Homo sapiens: one gene and its partners. The protein of the gene in region 2 purifies or fractionates together with the protein of the main gene of each other region. This does not show direct contact. Each region holds a gene or a part of one and is shown on either strand. Other genes may lie near its edges.

Region 1 (5,322 bases), on a different chromosome or scaffold from region 2:
TGGGCCCAGTCATGCCTGGCTCATAGATGAAATCCCTTAAGCAGGATTGAAGACCAGTGAACGCCCCCGCCTTTTGGATTTTTTGCTCAATTGACCGTCTTTTCCAGACCTCTTTAAGTCACACTCTTAACTTAGCTTTCTCTGATGTCTGTTGCCGCCATTAGTTTTTTTCTAGAGCCCACACTGGCCCACATAGCTCCATCCCATACGGGTAGCTGGCTCCAGCTGCGCCAAGGTGCAGACCCGCCCTGGGCATGCTGGCCTGTGACGGAGCCTGAGGTCACAGCCCCCTGACTAGCCTGAGACCTTCCTAGGGGCTGTGGCTGTTTCCGGGGAGGCCGGGAGGGGCAGCTGTGAGCCCTGTGGAGGACGTTGGGAGTAACGCTGCTTTGCTTTGGCAGGTTGAAGGGGCCCGGCCAGGACTCGGGGAAGGGTGGCCTGAGAGCAGCGATGACCTCTGGGGTCACTGTCCCAGGAGGGACTTCACCTGGAACAAGAGCTGGAGGCAGCCGCTTGCCCAGGAGGCTTGTCCCCTGTAAGTGCTTTCGGGAAGAGTGGCATGTGGCGCTGAGCCCTGTCCCGGGCGGCACCTGGGCGTTTCAGTGAGTCCTGCTCTCCCGCACCTATGGCCCCATGGCGGGCGCCTTTCGGTGTGTGTTGGGTGCAGGGCAGCGCCTCCCGGGAGCGCCGGGTCCCCCGCCTGGAGCCCGCGCCTGTTCTCCCTCCCTTCCTCCTCCTTCCAGGAGGCGCTTCGCCAGTGAGGTGCGGGCTCAGGGCCTCGAGTCTCTCCTGGAGCACGGGCTGCGGTGCGCCGGCAGCTTACGGGGCGGCCAGTCCTTGCCCACAACGATGTGGAGCCCTGTGAAAGTCGGATTCGAATAAAGGGCCACGTGTGCACCCAGAAAGCCGAGTCTGTGGTTCAGGGGGGTCTGTCGGCGGAGCGGGGCCACTGGAAGAAAAGCCTGCGGACCTCGGTTCAGCGCACGAGTAGGACCCGACAGGGAAGACTGCAAGGGTCATTGTCCGAGCAGTGACCGCGGGGGGCTCGCCACTGAGGGGGTTCGCAGCGCGGAGACTCCAGTCTCGCGGGATCTGAGGCGCACTCGGCTTCGAGGGAGCGGCGGCCGCGCAGCCGCTGTCAGGCCCCGTCTTGGGCCGAGTCCCGGGTTCCCTGTAGCAGGCTTGGGAGCGGGGCGCCACCTTCCTGGGCCCTGGACGTGGCCGACGCGTTCTCAGTGTCCGTGAGGCCGGGGCAGGAGTGGCGGGGGTCGCCCCGAAGTGGGTGGGAATGAGCGGCCCGAGGTCCTGAAGTCGGGGTCCGCCCCGTCTCCCCGCTGCCAGCCCGATTTCCTCGGAAGCCGCGACCCCCCACGCTGGGCTGGCAGTTCTGGGCTCTGCCGGCTGCGCCTTGCCGGGACTCCCACGGGCGGGCTCCGGGCCTCCGTCCTGATCCCTTGGAGCGGTTCGACGAAGCAAGTTCCGCGGCGGGCGCGCGGGGCACTGTGGGTAGCGCCGGGGCTCACCAGGCGGAGGCGGGGCCCGGCGTCAAGCTCCGCCTCCGCGCCCCATTGGCTGGCATCACCTCCGCGCGCCTGACTGACAGCGCGCATAGGGGCGGGGCGCCGCCACCGCTTCCGCCGGGCCATGGGGCCGCGCGTGCTGCAGCCGCCGCTGCTGCTGCTCCTGCTGGCGCTGCTGCTGGCGGCGCTGCCGTGCGGTGCCGAAGAGGCCTCGCCGCTGCGCCCCGCGCAGGTCACGTTGTCGCCGCCGCCGGCCGTGACGAACGGGAGCCAGCCGGGCGCGCCACACAACAGCACGCACACGCGTCCGCCGGGGGCGTCGGGCTCGGCGCTGACGCGCTCCTTCTACGTGATCCTGGGCTTCTGCGGCCTGACCGCGCTCTACTTCCTGATCCGGGCGTTTAGGTGCGTCAGGCGCACGTGGGCGCCGTCTCTCAGCCTTGGCCAATTAGCGCGCGCCTAGTGCGTCACGTGCCGGGCCGCGGGGTCCTCCCCTCCCTCCCTCCCTCCCTCCCTCTCTCCCTGTTGGAGTGGGCGTGGGCGGTGCTGTGCGGGGTCGTCACGTGGTGTGGGCGGTGCAGGGGCCACGGGACTCACCCGCTCTCCAGCCTGCGCCTGGGGTTGGAGGTGCCCAGCGCGCCGCCTCTTAACTCGGGGGTGACGCTGCCCGTTTCCCAGGTGGGGCCACTGAAGCCGGAGCATGCCGGGCAGGGGTCAGGCCCTGGCGGGGCGAGGGGGCCTCCTTGGCTCCTTGTCGCCGGATGCCCGTCCTCGTTCTCATCTTCCCGCCTGCCGCCAGGCCTTTCCGTGGGGTCCCGATATTTTCCTTTCTGCTTCTACCCACTGAAGCTGGTTCGTCGCCAGGGTCGGCCACGTGCCCGCCTTGGGTGCTCCCACAGCCCGGGAGGTGCAGCTGCGTCCCCAGACCCTCGCGGGGGTCTCCAGCTGTAGGCAGCCCCTGGGCAGGAGGGGCTTCTGCGTGTTCAGGCCACCCCGGCTTCCCTGGCCTGTGGCTCCAGTCTCCTCTGGGCTCCTGACTACCCAGTGTGGCTGCTTCTCCCGGGTGGGAGAGACACAGCGAGGACCTTATCCCTCCCCATCACCACCCTGGCAAAGTCAAGCCGCTTTTTATTTTTTATAAGTTTTTATTGTAGCGATGGGGTCTCGCCATGTTACCCGCGCTGGTCTGAACTCCTGGGCTCAAGTGATCCTTTTTCGTTGGCCTCCCAAAGTGCTGGCATTATAGATGTGAGCACCTGCACTCCGCCATGCTGCTTTTTATGGGCCCTGTGCAGAGCCTCCCCTGTGCTCCACACCTCTTCCTGTGGAAGCACCTGCTGCGCGCTCTCCCCTGCCTGTATGCCGCGCCCTCCCTGCCTCCCGGGCTGCTGGGGCCACCAGGGGCTTGGCCCTGAGACAGGCTTCCATTCTGTTGTCTTTGGCAAAGTCTCACCCCTGTGTGAGCCTCAGTCTTTTCATCAGTGCAATGGGAGTGACATCAGCGTGCCTCTCCTGGGGTCCTGGCGCAGGGGAGATGGGAGGGCCTGGTAGGGCACATGTCTTCTTACTGTCATCGCCATGGGAGTGAATGGTAATCACTTGGCGATTAGGACATGAAAGAAGCAGGCACAGCAAAACCAGGGAGGTCTGCAGCAGGGCTCGGGGCTCCAGTAGAGGACGGCAATGAGAGTCCTGAGGGAAGGAGGAGGCAGGGTTGGCGGGGAGGGGCCACTGACTATGCCTGGACCTACTTCCAGGTTGAAGAAGCCTCAGCGGAGGCGATACGGCCTCCTCGCCAACACTGAGGACCCCACGGAGATGGCCTCGCTGGACAGCGACGAGGAGACGGTGTTTGAGTCCCGGAATCTGAGATGGTGTGCACCCTTCCCCAGCTCTGGGGCCTCGGTGGGCAGGCTGGGCTGGAGACTCAGCAGGACCCTGGGGACTTGGCCAAGCCATGGAGTGGTCCCTGCAATCACAGCTGACAGCGGTAGTCAGGCCATGGCCCCACTGGGCAGGGCTCATCCCTTCTCCCAGCCTCCATTTACAACTTTTTTTTTTTAAACTTAAATGTTTGTCATTTATTTATTTTTGAGGTGGAGTGGCGCGATCCCAACTCACTGCAACCTCCGCCTCCGGGATTGAGGCGATTTTCCTGCCACAGCCTCCCGAGTAGCTGGGATTACAGGCACCCGCCACCACGCCTCGCTAATTTTTTGTATTTAGTAGATAGAGATGGGGTTTCACCATGTTGGCCAGGCTGGGTTCCAGCTCCTTACCTCAGGTGATCCATCTGCCTGGGCTTCCCAAAGAGCTGGGATTACAGGTGTGAGCCACCGCACCTGACCTAAGTTTTGTTTTGTTTTGAGATGGAGTTTCGCTCTTGTTGCCCAGGCTGGAGTGCAATGGCACGATCTCTGCTCACTGCAACCTCCACCTCCCAGGTTCAAGCATTTCTCCCATCGCAGCCTCCTGAGTAGCTGGGATTAAAGGTGCTCACCACTACACCCGGCTAATTTTTGTAGTTTTAGTAGAGACAGGGTTTCACCATGTTGGCCAGGCTGGCCTCGAACTCCTGACCTCAGGTGATCTGCCCGCTTCGGCCTCCCAAAGTGCTGGGATTACAGGTGTGAGCCACCGTGGTCAGCCTTCTTGCTTTTTTAAGGCAGGAAAGCGGCTGCAGGGCTTAGGGTAGTGGTTGCTCCATCTGGGCCCCTCCCTGAGGGATGAGGTCTAAGTCAGGTGGAGAACTGACTGCAGGATGCTTCTGAGCGGGCGGGGTCAGGGAGGGCCTCTCCCTGGTGTAATGGGGCTGGCTTCTGGAAGAGTGTCTCAGGCCGAGGGAACAGCAGGGAGCGGCCGGGCTGCGCAGATGCCGGGCGGGACTGGGGTAGGCCTGGGCATCGAGGCAGCTGTCAGGGGTTAGCAGGGTTCTGGGCAGGGAATGATGGGTATGTTGCGCTGCAGTGTGGCTGCTGGGGGGACCTTGGCCTGTTGGGGGGTGGCAGGCATGGAGGCTGGGAGACCAGGAGACTGGGCGGCCTCTGGGGACAGCTCTGACTTTTTGAGCCCCCAGGGAGGGAGGCACTGGGATCCCTCCGCATGCTCTGACTCCATTCTGGGAACCCCTCCCAGGTTTCTTCTACCTCCTGGCTGGGGGCCCCTTCCCCCGGAGTGGGCAGTTGCACAGGGCCCAGGAGGCCGGGGAGGGAGGCCAGTGGGGGGAGGCTGGGCCCTGGTAGACCGAGGGGCCTGGACAGGCTGCCTGCCCCTGCCTGACCTGGGTGAGCCTCTGCCCGGCAGGGCGGGCCCTTCACTCCTTCCCTCTCACCCTTGACCCCCTGCTTTCAGATGCTGAGCCAGGGAGGCGGCCCTTCCAGCAGCCATGAGGGAAGGACAGGAGATGGGGCCCACCCCAGTGCCCAGCAACCCCCTGCTCCACCGCTCATTCCCCTGCTGGCCCCGGGGCTGGTCTCACCCAGTGCCAACCCGAGAGCTCCTTTTGGAACCTGCACAGCCCGCCGACCTGTTGCCACCTGCACCCACCGCTGGACCATGCAGCCTCGCCTCCTGGATGCTGTCCCAGCCTGGCCGAGGGTCCCAGGTGAAGACTGGAGGGACCCCAACAGCCACCGCCCAGGACGCTGAGGCTCCCTTGCCTGACTGTGACTTGTGCCTCTCTCCTGCCCCCGTGGGGACATGGCAGCCCAGAGCCAAGGCTGGGTGGGCAGGTGACCCAAGGAACCTTTCTGGGAACACCTTCTCGCCGGGCTGGGAACAATAAATGCAGCCATGTCTCTGC
Region 2 (4,746 bases):
TTTGAAATGATGTTAAATCAGTTTAGAAAGTAGAGAAATAACCATTACATGCCTTAATTTCTGTTACTAAATGAAGTGGAGGAAAACAGTGACTGATAGGAGCTTTGTTTAGTGAAATTCAACTAGCATCTCCTCTTAAATAATTTTAACATATTTTCCAAAATATTGCCAAATCTTTGATGAATTATTTTGGAAAACCTGGCTTCATTTGTGTAGAAGCCATTCATGTTTTCTGGTATTTCTCTTTCTTTTGAGGATGTCTGTGTAAAAAAAATTCTAAAAGTTTGAAAATAGGCTCAGCTCATATAACACCAGCCACATAGTTCATAGGTCTTGAGGGAGTCTCCAGGGATTACTTGGAGATTTTATATACATATAAAAAAGTATATCAAGGTATATGTACTACATTTTACTCAAGTTGGGTTTATATAATTTCAGGTTTCTCTGTGCACATTGGTGATTTCACATTTTAAGTTTATGGGATTCAGGAAGCACGTGTGTTTTAGGCTGTATCACATTGGTGTGGCACTAATCAGATGGCATGTAAATAACTTGTTGATAGGATCACTTAATAAACCATCATGATTCTTCAATCCATATGAGACTTATTTGGGAGAGAAGTGAAATTACAAGAATCAAGGGATTAGTATTATGTTTTATAAATTTTGGATATAAACTTTGAGAATTTTATTCTTATTCATAAGTTAACTCCATATGTTTAAGACGCACAACATTAATGATAAAAATAAGATCCATTGTATCATTTTTATATAGGGGTGTTGGCCTCATGTTAGTGTGGCCTTCTGTTTCTGTAAGGATTCTGGATGTTTAATAGACATTTTGGGTTGCATCATGAAGCTTTATTGACTTTTATGGTGAAATTATTACAGGGCAGGTGAATCCGAACATTGGGGTTTAGCCCGAGAAGGTTGGCTCAGGAAAGAATTCAAGAGTGAGCTGGTGGTAGAAAAATCAGCTTTATTGAGGCAGGGTTGTTACAGCTCTGTGACTTCTCCTTCAGAGCAGGGGTACCCCTGGGCAGTGTGTCAAGAGTAGCAGCTCAGGGCCAGTTCTGCAGCCATGTTTATACTACTTTTAATTATGTGCAAATTAAGGGACAAGGTATTCAGAAATTTCTAGAAAACAGAAGGTAACTTCTGGGTCATTGCCATGGAAAGGGATGGTAACTTCTGGGTGTAGCCATGGCAATGGTAAACTGTCATGGTGCTGGTGGGTGTGTCTTACGGAGAGGATCTTTCGTTGCCTCTTCCTTGTTTCTGTCAGTCTTCAATCTGGTCCAGAGTCACATTCCACCTCCTACCTCATTATGAATAATGAAAAGTCAGGCTGATAGGGCTCTGTATTTTCTATCTTGGCTTCTGTCAGAGTTGTCCCATCGAATCCGTCGTATATGTCACAGTTCACTTAACTGTGTTTAGTAAGGGTTTCTATCTTTAAAGCATGTTTGGAAACACTATCCTATGCAATAAATTTTAATTGGCTTCTTCCATATTTTCTTTTTCTTAATAAAGAACAAAGCAGACTTTTATTTCTAGTGAAATGGTTTACAAGATTGGGTCCTGAATAGACCCAAGAAAATCTAAATGTCATTTCTCTGAAGACTGCAAATTGTTGAAAGGCCCATATACTTTAAAAATGTTACCTATGAAAATAAGAAATTATTTAGACAGGTATAAATTACTATATGGTTTTAAGAACAGTCTTGAAAATACGTTTCAAAAACAACAAATTGTTATCGTTTTAGAAATGCAGATGTCATAGATGTTTTTGCAGCACTCTAAAGCAGCAAAAATGCATTGCAGTTGTGCAGTATTAAGGAAGTTGAAACATCGTTGACTGAGCTCACATTAGTTTGTTGGCTAACCACAAAATATGTAAAAAGGTAGAGCTTTTTGCATGTTTTTGATGCTGTGATTTCTTGACAGGAAGGAAAGCAAACTGCAGAAGCACAGCAAACTGCAGAAGCACCTGCAAAGTATTATAGGAAACAGTGAGACAACGATTAGGGCTTGGAGGATGGCCTACCATTAAGAAAAACTGTGTTGCACTTTAAGTTATGTAAAACTATGTTTAGTTGAAAATGTGTATTTTTAAAATATTTTGATTGCACTGTTCATTTTATCATCGCATTCATATTGGTATATAGCTACACTGTACATTTCTTTAATCTTCTATTAATATTTTCTTTTATTTAAAATCTTGTTTCAACAGTTTGAAGGTGATGAAGTTAATTCCATTGTAATGAGAATTTAATATGTTTGAGAGTTGGTATATTCTGTTGGTTATCACAGTCTGGACTCAGGCATACCTAAATCTGAGATTCAGTGTTGCCTTTGTCTTGATGTGTAATCTTAGACAAAATAGCCTCTCTTTGCCTCATCTCTAAAGTTGGAATTGTAGCAGTGATACTTACCTCATAAAGCTGTTGTGAAGATTAAATTATTTAATCAACATATAACCCTTAGCACCATATATGATAGTTTTTATAATATTCCCCAGTGAGATAATGGTGAGAAGAAGTAAGTGGGCATTTATTAATTGCTATATTATATTACTGTTGACGTTTCTTATGATAGAACTTTTTACAATCTCATGGAATATTATTGTCCCACCTTACAAATAAGGAAACTGATGTCTAATACAAAGATACTTTGATTTGCACATGCAAGGTATAGAATCAAGGCAGTTAAACAATTTGAGTTTTGCTTAAATTGCTCCAACCAAAGTTGTCCTTTGGTTGGAGCAAGAGAAGCTGGCCAAGAGAAATTAGATAATTTACCTGGTCTTGGTGAAAGATAATGAAGGCCAATAATAGGAGGGTTGGATAAAACTGGGCAAATTTGTTTGACATTTTAGCGGTAGAATCAACTAAATACTACTGCATGTGATTCAGTGTTATAGGTCAGCACAAGGGAATATTAATGGATCTCTTGGATATTTTGAGTTTGAAGTTCTCATGGGATATCCAGATTTAGATGCTCCGTAGACACCTGGAGCTGTAAAATAAAAAAACGACTTCAGTGGAGGTTCTAATTTTGCAAGTAAAGAGCATTAGAGTTAATAGTTGAATCCAACAAAGAAGTGCCAAATTGAGAAGTAAAGAGACCAGAGAGCAAAATCCTGATGGGCACCAACATTTAAAAGGTAGTTGGAATAATTTGGTGTGGCTAGCAAAATGTTTAAAATATACTAGGATAGTGAAATAGAGCACAGTAAAGGGAACTGCAAGGAATAAGGTAGTCTCTGGCAATATATGTATTCTAGAGACATCAAATATTATTTTTCTTTTTGAGCATTAAATTCAATTCAGCAATTTTGCAATTTTACAAGCAGTTATTTCAAGCATGTGCTCACAAAGCACTTTGCACGAGCTGTACTTCACTATCTGCAAACCTTGCATCTGGTCCTTGCTTATGGAAGCATTTCGTAAAGTTTCAAATGTAATTAAAAGTGATAGAATTTTTTTTTTTTTTTTTTTTTTTTTTTTGCCTGAGACAGGGCCCTGCTTTATCACCTTGCCTGGCGTGCAGTAGTGCCACCTTAGCTCACTGCAGCCTCAACTCTCGGGCTCAAGAGATCTTCCCACCTCTACCTGAGACTAGATGGGACCACAGGCATGCACTACCAAGCCTGGCTAATTTTTTCTTTTTTTTTGTGGAGATGAGGTCTCACCATGTTGGCCAGGCTGGTCTGGAATGCCTGTGCTCAAGCAATCCCACACACCTCAGTCTCCCAAATTACTGGGATCACAGGCATGAACCATTGCACCTGACCATTTTATTTGAGTTGTATTATTTTTCTTTCTACATTTTGGCTCTGCATTCTACATTTCATCATACTATACCATTATTGAGAATGAGAAGAGCTTGAGAAATTTGTTTATATGATATACTACCGTCTTCCAAACACAACTCCTTCTCTTCCCCTTAAGAGTAATTACCACTATTCTGATTTTTATGCAGTCACTTTCTTGCTTTTCTGTATTGCTTTATTACCCAGGTATGCATCCCTAAATATTACAGTTCAGTTTTGCTTTTCTTTTAATAGTATTTTTTGAGTATCTTATAATCTTCAGGTGCCCCAAACATAGCACCTGACGTCCGATACAAAGACATCTCTCTCCCTTTTAAAATTTGTCTATTGAAAAAACCAGGCCAGGTGCGGTGGCTCATCACTTTGGGAGTCCAAGGCAGGCAGATCGCCTGAGGTCAGGAGTTTGAGACTAGCCTGGCCAACATGGTGAAACCCCATCTCTGCTAAAAATACAAAAAAATTAGCCAGGCATGGTGGCAGGCGCCTGTAATCCCAGCTACTTGGGAGGCTGAGGCAGGAGAATCGCTTGAATCCGGGAGGCGGAGGTTGCAGTGAGCTGAGACGACACCATTGTACTCCAGCCTGGGCAACGAGGCTCCATCTCAAAAAAAAAAAAAAGAAAGAAAGAAAAAGAAAAAACCAGATCATTTATTTGTAGAATTTTCCCAGAATCTGGATTTTGTTGATTACTTTCATGAAATGTAGGTTAATGTGTTCTTCTATAATCCATGTTTCCTGTAAACTGGGAATTGGATCCAGAGACTTAACCAGTTTCAAGAACCTCCTCCAGCACCTTTTTTTAACAAGACTATATCCTAGGTAGTGGGGTATTCTTCCTCAAGAGAGACATAATTCTGTTTTTGAAATTATTGCAGCAGTTGATGCAAAATGCCTAGATCCATGATTCACTAG
Region 3 (4,746 bases), on a different chromosome or scaffold from region 2:
TAGTGTTCTGTAGAATAAACTTCGGCAAATGTTGCTTTAAATTTCCTTCAACCACCAGGTTGGATTGCTAAACAGATGTTGTAGCTAAAGAGACATCATTTTCCGTAGTAGGGGATGGGACGTAGCTAACTCCAGTTCTTGCTTCTGTTAACAAGGCTAATCTCACTTATTTTAAGAAATGTATTCCGCTTTCTTTAAAAGTCATTAGGATAAAAAGAAAAACAATGCTTTTTATAATTTATACCTATGTATTTGAATTTCACAGCAACTTTTGTGCTGACCTGTGAGGTCAGCTTCAGGATCTGGAGTAGTTGACGTCAGAAAGTATCTCAGAGCTGCGGTGTGAACTGGGCAGCTGCCCCTATCCTGTGAATACAGTCTGGGGGCCCCCAGCCAGGACATGTGAAGAATGTGTCATTTGTCCCTCAGCATGGTCTTGGCTTCTGTGGGGGCTTTTCTAGGCTCACTACTCTGATTGCTTTGTGGGCAGGAAGAAGACGAGTTCATTGTGGAGGGGCTCCTGAACATCTCCTGGGGCCTGCGCCGGCCCATTCGCCTGCAGATGCAGGATGACAACGAACGCATTCGACCCCCTCCATCCTCCTCCTCCTGGCACTCTGGCTGTAACCTGGGGGCTCAGGGGTGAGTGAGGAGAGACGGGGCAGGGAGATGACTGGGATGCTTGGGTGTTCTATGTGTTCTCAAGCAGATAAATGCTGCCTTCTTCCAGCCAGCCCTGACCCTGGCTCCTCCTCCTACTACCTCTACTGCCCACCTGCCTTAGCCTTGGAATGAGGAACAAGCAGCAGATGTGGTTGTGATTGAGCCCCCTTCCTGTCACTGCAATCACTGATGAGGTCACAGGAGGGGAGCTGCTGAGTCATACGAGGGGAGCTGCTGAGTCAGAGTCCTCCCTTAGGGAGAACTCAGGAGTCTCTGAGTGGAGCTGCTAGTGGCTAGTGAGGCCCAGCCTGTATATTTCTAACAGGGCGCCCCATGCCCCAGCACCCTCCCCACTGGGACCACTCCTCATAGAATAGCCCCACTCCAAAGCATTTATGACTTGAACCTTCTGACCAAAGCTCTCTGAATCTTGGGGGAACCTAGAAGAGGAAAAGGAATGTCAGGCTCTGTCAGAGTCAGCCAAGCGAGATCAGCCAGGGGTCTGCTCCCTGCAGACCATACGGGGAGCCAGGGTTTGGTGAGATGGTGGTAGTCTAAGTTCCCACCAGAAGGGCTGGGAAGACCTAGTCCATCCCTCCTTATCCTCCATGGCTGAATAAGCCGCCAAATGCGCCGCCAAATGCCTCTAGCAAGGCATGCCCTCTTTATTGTCTTTCTGGGACTTGAGTTTTAGGATCAAGTGACTAGCCTGTCTCCATCCTGAAACCTGCTGATGCTGACTGCCTTCGGCCCCAGCCTGGGTGGAGTGTGCTCGCCTCTCAGCCAAAACCACAGTGACCTTTTTTTCTGGTTTAAATGAAAACCAAGCCCTCTCTGTTGGCCACATTGAACATTTTGCTAAACTCCACAGCCAAATCTATGTTTCTCTACAATTGAGAGAAACCTACTATGTGGCCAGCCCTGGGGCTGGTCTGGTTTCTTTCCAAGGGGATTTAAGGAGGAAAATTGTTGCCCACCCCATAGGTGCTAGGATGTCTGGTTAAGGTTCTTTGGTTTCATCTAACTTTGCAGGTTTCATGCTCTGCTTTTCAGCACTATCACCATATTTTTGTTTTGTTTTGTTTGAGACAAGGTCTCACTCTGTTTCCCAGGCTGGAGTGCGGTGGCTTAATCACAGCTTACTGCAGCCTCAACCTCCTAGGCTCAAGTGATCCTCCCAACTCAGACTCCCCAGCAGCTGGGACTATAGGTGCACACCGCCCCACCCCGACCTTTTTTTTTTCTGTTGCCCAGGCTGGAGTGCAGTGATGCGATCTCGGCTCACTGCAACCTCTGCCTCTCGGGTTCAAGCGATTCGTGCCTCAGCCTCCTGAGTAGCTGGGATTACAGGTGCCCACCACCAAACCCAGCCATTTTTGTATTTTTTGGTAGAGAGGGGGTTTCATCATGTTGGCCAGGCTGGTCTTGAACTCATGACCTCAAGATATCCACCTTCCTTGACCTCCCAAAGTTCCGGGACCACAGGGGTGAGCCACCATACTGGCCCTACCTGGATAATTTTCATGTTTTTTGTAGAAATGGGGTCTCACTATGTTGCACAGGTTGGTCTCAAACTCCTGGCCTCAGGCAATCCTCCCACCTTGACTTCCCAACGTGCTGGGATTACAGGTGTGAGCCACCATGCCCAGCTGTACTTGTTACACTGTACTGTATTTGTTATACTATACTGTATTTGTTATACTATACTGTATTATTGCTGTATTTGACTGCCAATGGCCAAGCCCATTTCACAGCCTGACCCTGACCCCCAGACTATTCTATTCCCTAAGTGAGATGATTTTTAAGATTTCGTTTGAGCCTGTGGCCTTTGGTTTGGGCTGCTAAAGGGTCCTTCGGTCCGCCTGCTTCTTCTCCCTTCTCTGCGGCATCAAGCTGGTCCTGGCTGACTCTGCAAAATACTTTGGTAGAATTTTCAGGAATGGTAAATGGTGTCATTTAGATGTCAGCTATAATACAGTGAATGCCTAGACTGCTGTCTTAAGAAGGATCCTGAGGCTGTGCGTGGTGGATCGTGCCTATAATCCCAGCACTTCGGGAGGCTGAGGCGGGTGATCACTTGAGCTCAGGAATTCAAGACCAGCCTGGGCAACATGGTGAAACCCTGTCTCTACAAAAAAATAAAATAAAAAAAAAAAATAAGGATGCTGAGACCGGTTCCTGCTTCAGCAAGAATGAAGGCTTTAAATCAGGGAGTGGGAGTCGCTGCTCTGGGTGCCAAGTGTTCACCATTCCCCAGAAGCTCTGACCAGGTCCATTCTGTGGTTCAGAAGTATATGAGTTAAATTACAATAGGAAGTTCTTTCAGATTTTCCATTTTAATTGTCCTTCCTTAAAACGATCCTCCCCAGAACATGAGGTTTATCTCTACTGGGTCCCAGGGAGCCCATGCTCTTCTCACCATGGGTTGTTCCTAATTGGTCAAATATGATTCTCCTTTCTAGCCAAATCCTCTGTTGATTTTGGATGTTTTTCTGAGCTGCTCCCTTTGTCCTTTTTGGCTTTGAGAAGTTATTTGCCAGTTATGATGGCAAACCAGGGTCTCAGCTTGGACTGCCTGCTTGTAACCCTTTCTTCAGCTTGGATGAGGACTCCATCCTTGCAACGCTGAGAACACTGTCAGTGTCCCTTCCAAAGCTGCCCCTGCCCTTGTTGTGGCCAACTTATTACTTTCCATTCCTTTTGAATGCCAGAAGCAATTATGAGTTATTTCTTCAACAGCAATGAGTCTAAACTGGAATCTTACCCTGCAAAACGAATGGCCACTATTAGAGTTTTCCAAGTAAGCCATAGAATCCATACATGCTTAGAAGCAGTGCAGGCAACACGTGGGTTTTGTTCCTTGGTATTATCCATCCTGGGCTTGATGAATTGGTTGGGTGTGTTACTGCAGTTGCTGCAAAAGAACATCTTCTCCCTCCGGAACTCCCCCTGCCCCACCCACTGCTTGACCTGGGAGCTGGGCCAGCCTTTCACGGGATGCTCCGCGCAGCCCATCTGCACCCTTCATCACCTGATGTGTGCCAGTACCCAGCCTGGCACTAGCAAAGTGCTCCCCTTTCAGGAGTGGGGTCCAGCGGGTGCGGGGGCGTCTCTCCACAGGGCTTAAACTAGTCTCCCCCCTCCCCTTTGTCTTCTCCACTCCCAGAACCACTCTGAAGCCCCTGACTGTGCCCAAAGTTCAGATCTCAGAGGTGGATGCCCCGCCGGAGGGTGACCAGATGCCAAGCTCCACAGGTACATGTGAGTGGAAGGTACTTCCAGCTAGGGACCAACTGTGTGAAGACCGCTGTGATAGATGTTGTAAACTGTTATTTATTTTTGAGAATATAAAATGTATATGGTTCAAGATACAAAGGGAGAGAATTAAGTCACCCACCTCATCCACCCACCTAGAAGCATCCCGAGAACATCCTTCGTGGGATAGTCCATGCAAATATAAGCAAAACACACTGACATGTCTTTATGGGTGGATGTAGTTTCTTTCCCCCTCCCCTCCCCTCCCCTCCCCTCCCCTCCTCTCCCCTTCCCTTCCCTTCCCATCTCCCTCTGTCACTCAGGAGGATGCAGTGCAGTAGTGCAATCTTGGCTCTGCTTCCTGGGTTCAAGTGATCCTCCCACCTCTGCCTCCTGAGTAGCTGGGATTAAAGGCATGGGCCACCATGCCCAGCTAATTTTTGTATTTCTAGTGCTGATGGGTTTTTGCCATGTTGGCCAGGCTGGTCTTGAACTCCTGGCTTCAAGTGATCTGCCCGCCTCAGCCTCCCAAAATGCTGGGATTATAGGCATGAGCCACCGCGCCTGGTTGGATGTAGTTTCTTTTCTTCCCCTAGTTATACAAGTGGTAGCATTGTGCAGATCCCAGTTTTTATTTATCAGTTTATCTGGGGGAATGTTTCCATATACATTTGTAAAGAACTTCCTTATTCTTTACAGCTCTGCATTCTTTCACTGTATGGAAAAAGGATAATTTATGTAATCACTCCCTACTGGTAGACATTTAAGTCATTTTCAGCCTCTGCTATGACAAACGAGTTTGCAGTCGGCGGCCTTATACATGTGTCA
Region 4 (4,746 bases), on a different chromosome or scaffold from region 2:
GGTTAGTAAAATTTCTGAAATTACTAGAGAAAAATATTTAATGCTATAGTTTATGATGGATTATATAGTATAAATGCTTATCATATAAGATTGACTAAATATTTTAAGGAAATTCATCAAAATGTCTAATATTTGACATTTAAAAATCAATATGATTAGGTGTTGGCATGCTTTATTTTTTTCTTCTAGAGACAAAGTCTTGCTCTGTTACCTAGGCTGGAGTGCAATAGTGTAGTTATGGCTCACTGCAGCTTCGAAATCCTGGGCTCAAGTGATCCTCTTGCCTCAGTCTCCTGAGTAGCTGGGACCACAGATGCATGCCACCACCCCTAACTAATTTTTAAAAATGTTTTGTAGACATGAGGCCTTGCTCTATTGCCCAGGCTGATCTTGAACCCTTGGGCTCAGGCAATCCTCCTGCCTTGCAAAGCGCTGGGATTACAGATGTGAGTCAATGTGCCCAGCCCTTTCTTGACATTTTAATTAAAGGATTGGGACTTTTAAAAACCATTATAAAATACCTTGGTATTAGCATACATATACTTAAATTCGTTTAGCTGTAATAGCCAGCCTAAATTTTTTCAGCAAAAACTTTATCAGATGCTAACAATGATAAAACCTAATTATTGAAAACTATTAAACTTCCCGCCAGGCGCGGTGGCTCATGCCTGTAATCCCAGCACTTTGGGAGGCCAAGGTGGGTGGATCATGAGGTTGAGAGATTAAGACCATCCTGGCTAACACGGTGAAACCCTGTCTCTACTAAAAATACAAAAAATTAGCCAGGCGTGGTTTCTGGCGCCTGTAGTCCCAGCTACTCGGGAGGTTGAGGCAGGAGAATGGCGTGAACCTGGGGGGCGGAGGTTGCAGTGAGCCGAGATCGAGCCACTGCACTCCAGCCTGGGCGACAGAGTGAGACTCCGTCTCAAAAAAAATAAATAAATAAAATAAACAAACTTCCCAAGGTTTTTCCACATTCATTCTGATGTCTCCTTCAATAGTTATTATTTATTGTTTTACTCAGAAAGTATGTAGTTTAAAATTATTAAAATAGTATTATGTATTTATAGTAGAGTGAAAAAGAAAATCTAAATATAAAGATCTCTCAAATCTACCATGAATGTTAATGGATTTTTATTATATATTACTGTTTTGTAACCTGGTATTCTTTATATAAAAATAAATTGTGAAAAGTATGAATTATTAATATAGGTTATCATTGATTACGGTAGTTTATGGTAGTACCATAATTAAACCAATCCTTTAACATTGGTTGAGTTGGGTTCACTTTTTCATTATTTAAACACAACTACCATCACAAAACAACAACACTGTGATCAGCATTCATACAACCAGAACATGGGGTTATATTATAATTATTTTCAGTATAAATTCTTGGAGGCAGAGTTTCAAAGTCTGGATAGCTGTAGAACTATTTTCAAATATAAAGTTGAGACATTGGAAGATCTGTAGCTTAGAGTTTATTGTTTAATTTGTTGTTGAGTAACTTTAAATAGAAACATTAAAAAGAATATGTAGCTGTTTCCTTAATGCTACAATTTATGTTATGAATGTATAATGGTCATGTTAAGTGTTTTATTTATTGCTTTATTTATATATTGCACATTTTTCATGATTATGTATGTGTTTCAAAGGCTATAGAATTGCTGTTGACATCTGGATAGTTATAAAAGCCTAATATAAGTTTATGTAACATCTTTATTTGACAGATTAGTAAGTGGGTGTTCTTAGCAACTTCTCTGGTGTATGCAATCCTTGGGCTTTAGACTTTTACAGGCCACTTTTAAACTCAACCTTTAGCATTTACCAGAGATCTGATCCTTATGCTTCCCACCTGTGAAATATGGATGATACCAAGCTCACAGAAAGTTGTGGATTAAATGAAGCAAATATGGAACTCCCCAGAGTAGTTCTTGATAGATAATAAATGCACTAATTAACTTTACTTATTTTCTTAGTATAGCTAAACAGTGAGACGAGTTACCAAAGGTCTATTTCTAAAATGTGGAAAGGCCAACCTGATTTTTCAGTTAACAAATCTTTGCAAACATATAATTTTCAGTGAGAACATTATCACTATTAAAAAGGACACAGAATTACAATTGACTAAATGTAAAGTTTTATTTTTTGAACAGTTGGACGGTATTTCTCTTGGGATATATTTATTCTTTTATAAGAATTTTATCATTTACATGTAATAGAAACTGTTGGACTTAATAGAAGACTTGAAAAAAAAACTGATAAATGAAAAAAAGGAAAAATTAACCTTGGAATTTAAAATTCGAGAAGAAGTTACACAGGAGTTTACTCAGTATTGGGCTCAACGGGAAGCTGACTTTAAGTAAGTTATTTATTTCATGTCCAGGTAAAAATTGAGAATTTTATTTAGTTTTTTAGTTTTTTTTTTTACTTAGTTTACTTTTTATATTAGGTGGCTTCTGAATTCTGATCTCTTTATACAAGCTTGAAAATAGCTGTTACTGGTCTGGTGCGGTGGCTCACGCCTGTAATCCCAGCATTTTGGGAGGCCTAGGCAGGCGGATCACTGAAGGTCAGGAGGTCGAGATCAGCCTGGCCAACATGGTGAAACCTCGTCTGTACTAAAAATAGAAAAATTAGCTGGGCGTACTGGCATGTTCCTGAAGTCCCAGCTGCTTTCAGGAGGCTGAGGCACGAGAATCTCTTGAACCTGGGAGGTGTAGGTTGCAGTGAGCTGAGATTGTGTCACTGCACTCCAGCCTGGGCGACAGAGTGAGACTCTTGTCTCAGAGAAGAAAAAAAAGAATATAGCTGTAACTAATCCCATGCATGGTTATTTAAATTTTCTCTCTTTTTTAAATTTAAATTTTAATTTTTTGAGATGGAGTCTTGTGCTGTCACCCAGGCTGGTATTGAGTGGTGCGATCTTGGCTCACGGCAACCTGCACCTCCTGGGTTCAAGCAATTCTTCTGCCTTAGCCTCTCCTGCCTTAGCCTCCTGAGTAGCTGGGATTACAGGCACACACCACCACGCCCAGCTAATTTTTGTGTTTTTAGTAGAGACGGTGTTGCTGTGTTGGCCAGGCTGGTTTCAAACTCCTGGCCTGAAGTGATCCACCCGCCTCCGCCTCCCAAATTGCTGGGATTACAGGCGTGAACCACTGTACCTGGACTAAATTTTCTTTTAATCTAGAATATACTTAAACTTAGATGTTTAAAACAAAAACACAAAGTAGTTCGTTTTCTGTTTCTTAATGGGATTAATTTGTATTTTGAAGGGAGACTCTGCTTCAAGAACGAGAGATATTAGAAGAAAATGCTGAACGTCGTTTGGCTATCTTCAAGGATTTGGTTGGTAAATGTGACACTCGAGAAGAAGCAGCGAAAGACATTTGTGCCACAAAAGTTGAAACTGAAGTATGTTAATTGAAGTATTTAAAAATATCCAGTGAGGTTTTGGTACCAGGGTTTAGTGTACCACATCAATGATGAGAAACACCAAGATAGTTTAGAATTAAAACAATGCTTTGTGTGTAGCTTTATTATAATTAGGCATGTTTTTTTAGAAGTGTAAGGCACCAAGAATTTAAATATAATGATTGGTTTTGAAAAATTTATACCTCTGTTATATATATATATATCTTATTTTGGTATTGCTTGAATCATTGTGTTGTAGGCAGATAGATTCTTTTTTGAGATTTGTCTTACTTAACATTTTTAAATAAAAAGAATTTTAAAGGTGTAAGAGACCTAAGACGTCATTTACTTGCTGTTCTGATTAAAACAAAAATGTTTATGTATAAAAAGGGTTGCCCTTGCCGGGCAACTACCGTTTCTTACTCTTTTAAAATTTTATTTGTTTATTTATTTATTATAGTTTTAGAGTTAGGGTCTTGCCGTGTTACCCAGGCTGATCTTGAATTCCTGGCTTCAAGCAGTCCTCCTGCCCAGCCTCCCAGGTGGCTGAGATTACAGGTGCACGCCACTGTGCTCAGCTTATTCTCTACTTGTAATATAAGAAAAATTATCCTTTTCTGCTGCTTCCACTGAAGCTGAAATTGATCAGTTTTTTGGGGGAGTTGGTTTTTTTTTGTTTTTGTTTAGTTTTTTAATCACTCAGTTCAAGTGCCTGTGACAGTGATGTCCAGACGTCTGCTGTCAAGCAAACCTTATGTATCCTTGACGTGGTTTGGGATTGACTGAGTTGTGAAAATGTAGGTTTGTTTCATGCACTATCCCAACAAAACCTTTTAAGTCTCATTATATAATTGAAAGTATACCTGAACTAGGTAATCATAATTGTTCTATAATGACTTGTCACAGTTTGTAACATTGTTTTTATGCGAAAATATGCCTCATGGTCCATACAGCAGAAAATAAATAATGGAACACAGGTTTTTCATAATTGGAGTTGCTTCTATATAATTTATTTTAAAGAATTTCAAGTGATGAATTTTTTGCTTTTTTAAAAACTGTCTAAATTAGATGGTACCACATGTAAAGGGTGAACCCTACTGTTAATATTAGGCATGTGGTTTTTGCTATTTTTAGGAAACACATAATTATGTAGGATTTGAAGATATTATTGATTCTCTTCAAGATAATGTTGCTGATATTAAGAAACAGGCTGAAATTGCTCACTTATATATTGCATCTCTTCCTGACCCCCAGGAAGCTACTGCTTGTTTAGAACTAAAGTTTAATCAAATTAAAGCTGAATTAGCTAAAACCAAAGGAGAATTAATC

Evidence for each region. The genes of interacting proteins can lie anywhere in the genome.
Region 1: the proteins of EMB (region 2) and FAM174C purify together in Homo sapiens (co-immunoprecipitation; one large-scale study listed by IntAct). This does not show direct contact.
Region 3: the proteins of EMB (region 2) and RASSF2 purify together in Homo sapiens (affinity purification with mass spectrometry; one large-scale study listed by BioGRID and IntAct). This does not show direct contact.
Region 4: the proteins of EMB (region 2) and KIF20B purify together in Homo sapiens (affinity purification with mass spectrometry; one large-scale study listed by BioGRID and IntAct). This does not show direct contact.

Annotation. Positions count from the first base shown.
Region 1 is NC_000019.10:1,273,906-1,279,227, forward strand, and holds the start of FAM174C (protein FAM174C precursor), read left to right. Parts: upstream 1-1,624; 5' UTR 1,625-1,644; coding exon 1,645-1,925; intron 1,926-3,277; coding exon 3,278-3,394; intron 3,395-4,871; coding exon 4,872-4,872; 3' UTR 4,873-5,322.
Region 2 is NC_000005.10:50,413,291-50,418,036, reverse strand, and holds part of EMB (embigin precursor), read left to right. Parts: intron 1-4,746. UniProt on the Homo sapiens protein: Plays a role in the outgrowth of motoneurons and in the formation of neuromuscular junctions.
Region 3 is NC_000020.11:4,791,711-4,796,456, reverse strand, and holds part of RASSF2 (ras association domain-containing protein 2), read left to right. Parts: intron 1-490; coding exon 491-642; intron 643-3,829; coding exon 3,830-3,918; coding exon of another isoform or gene 3,919-3,924; intron 3,925-4,746. UniProt on the Homo sapiens protein: Potential tumor suppressor. Acts as a KRAS-specific effector protein. May promote apoptosis and cell cycle arrest. Stabilizes STK3/MST2 by protecting it from proteasomal degradation.
Region 4 is NC_000010.11:89,721,742-89,726,487, forward strand, and holds part of KIF20B (kinesin-like protein KIF20B), read left to right. Parts: intron 1-2,222; coding exon 2,223-2,362; intron 2,363-3,278; coding exon 3,279-3,417; intron 3,418-4,551; coding exon 4,552-4,746. UniProt on the Homo sapiens protein: Plus-end-directed motor enzyme that is required for completion of cytokinesis. Required for proper midbody organization and abscission in polarized cortical stem cells.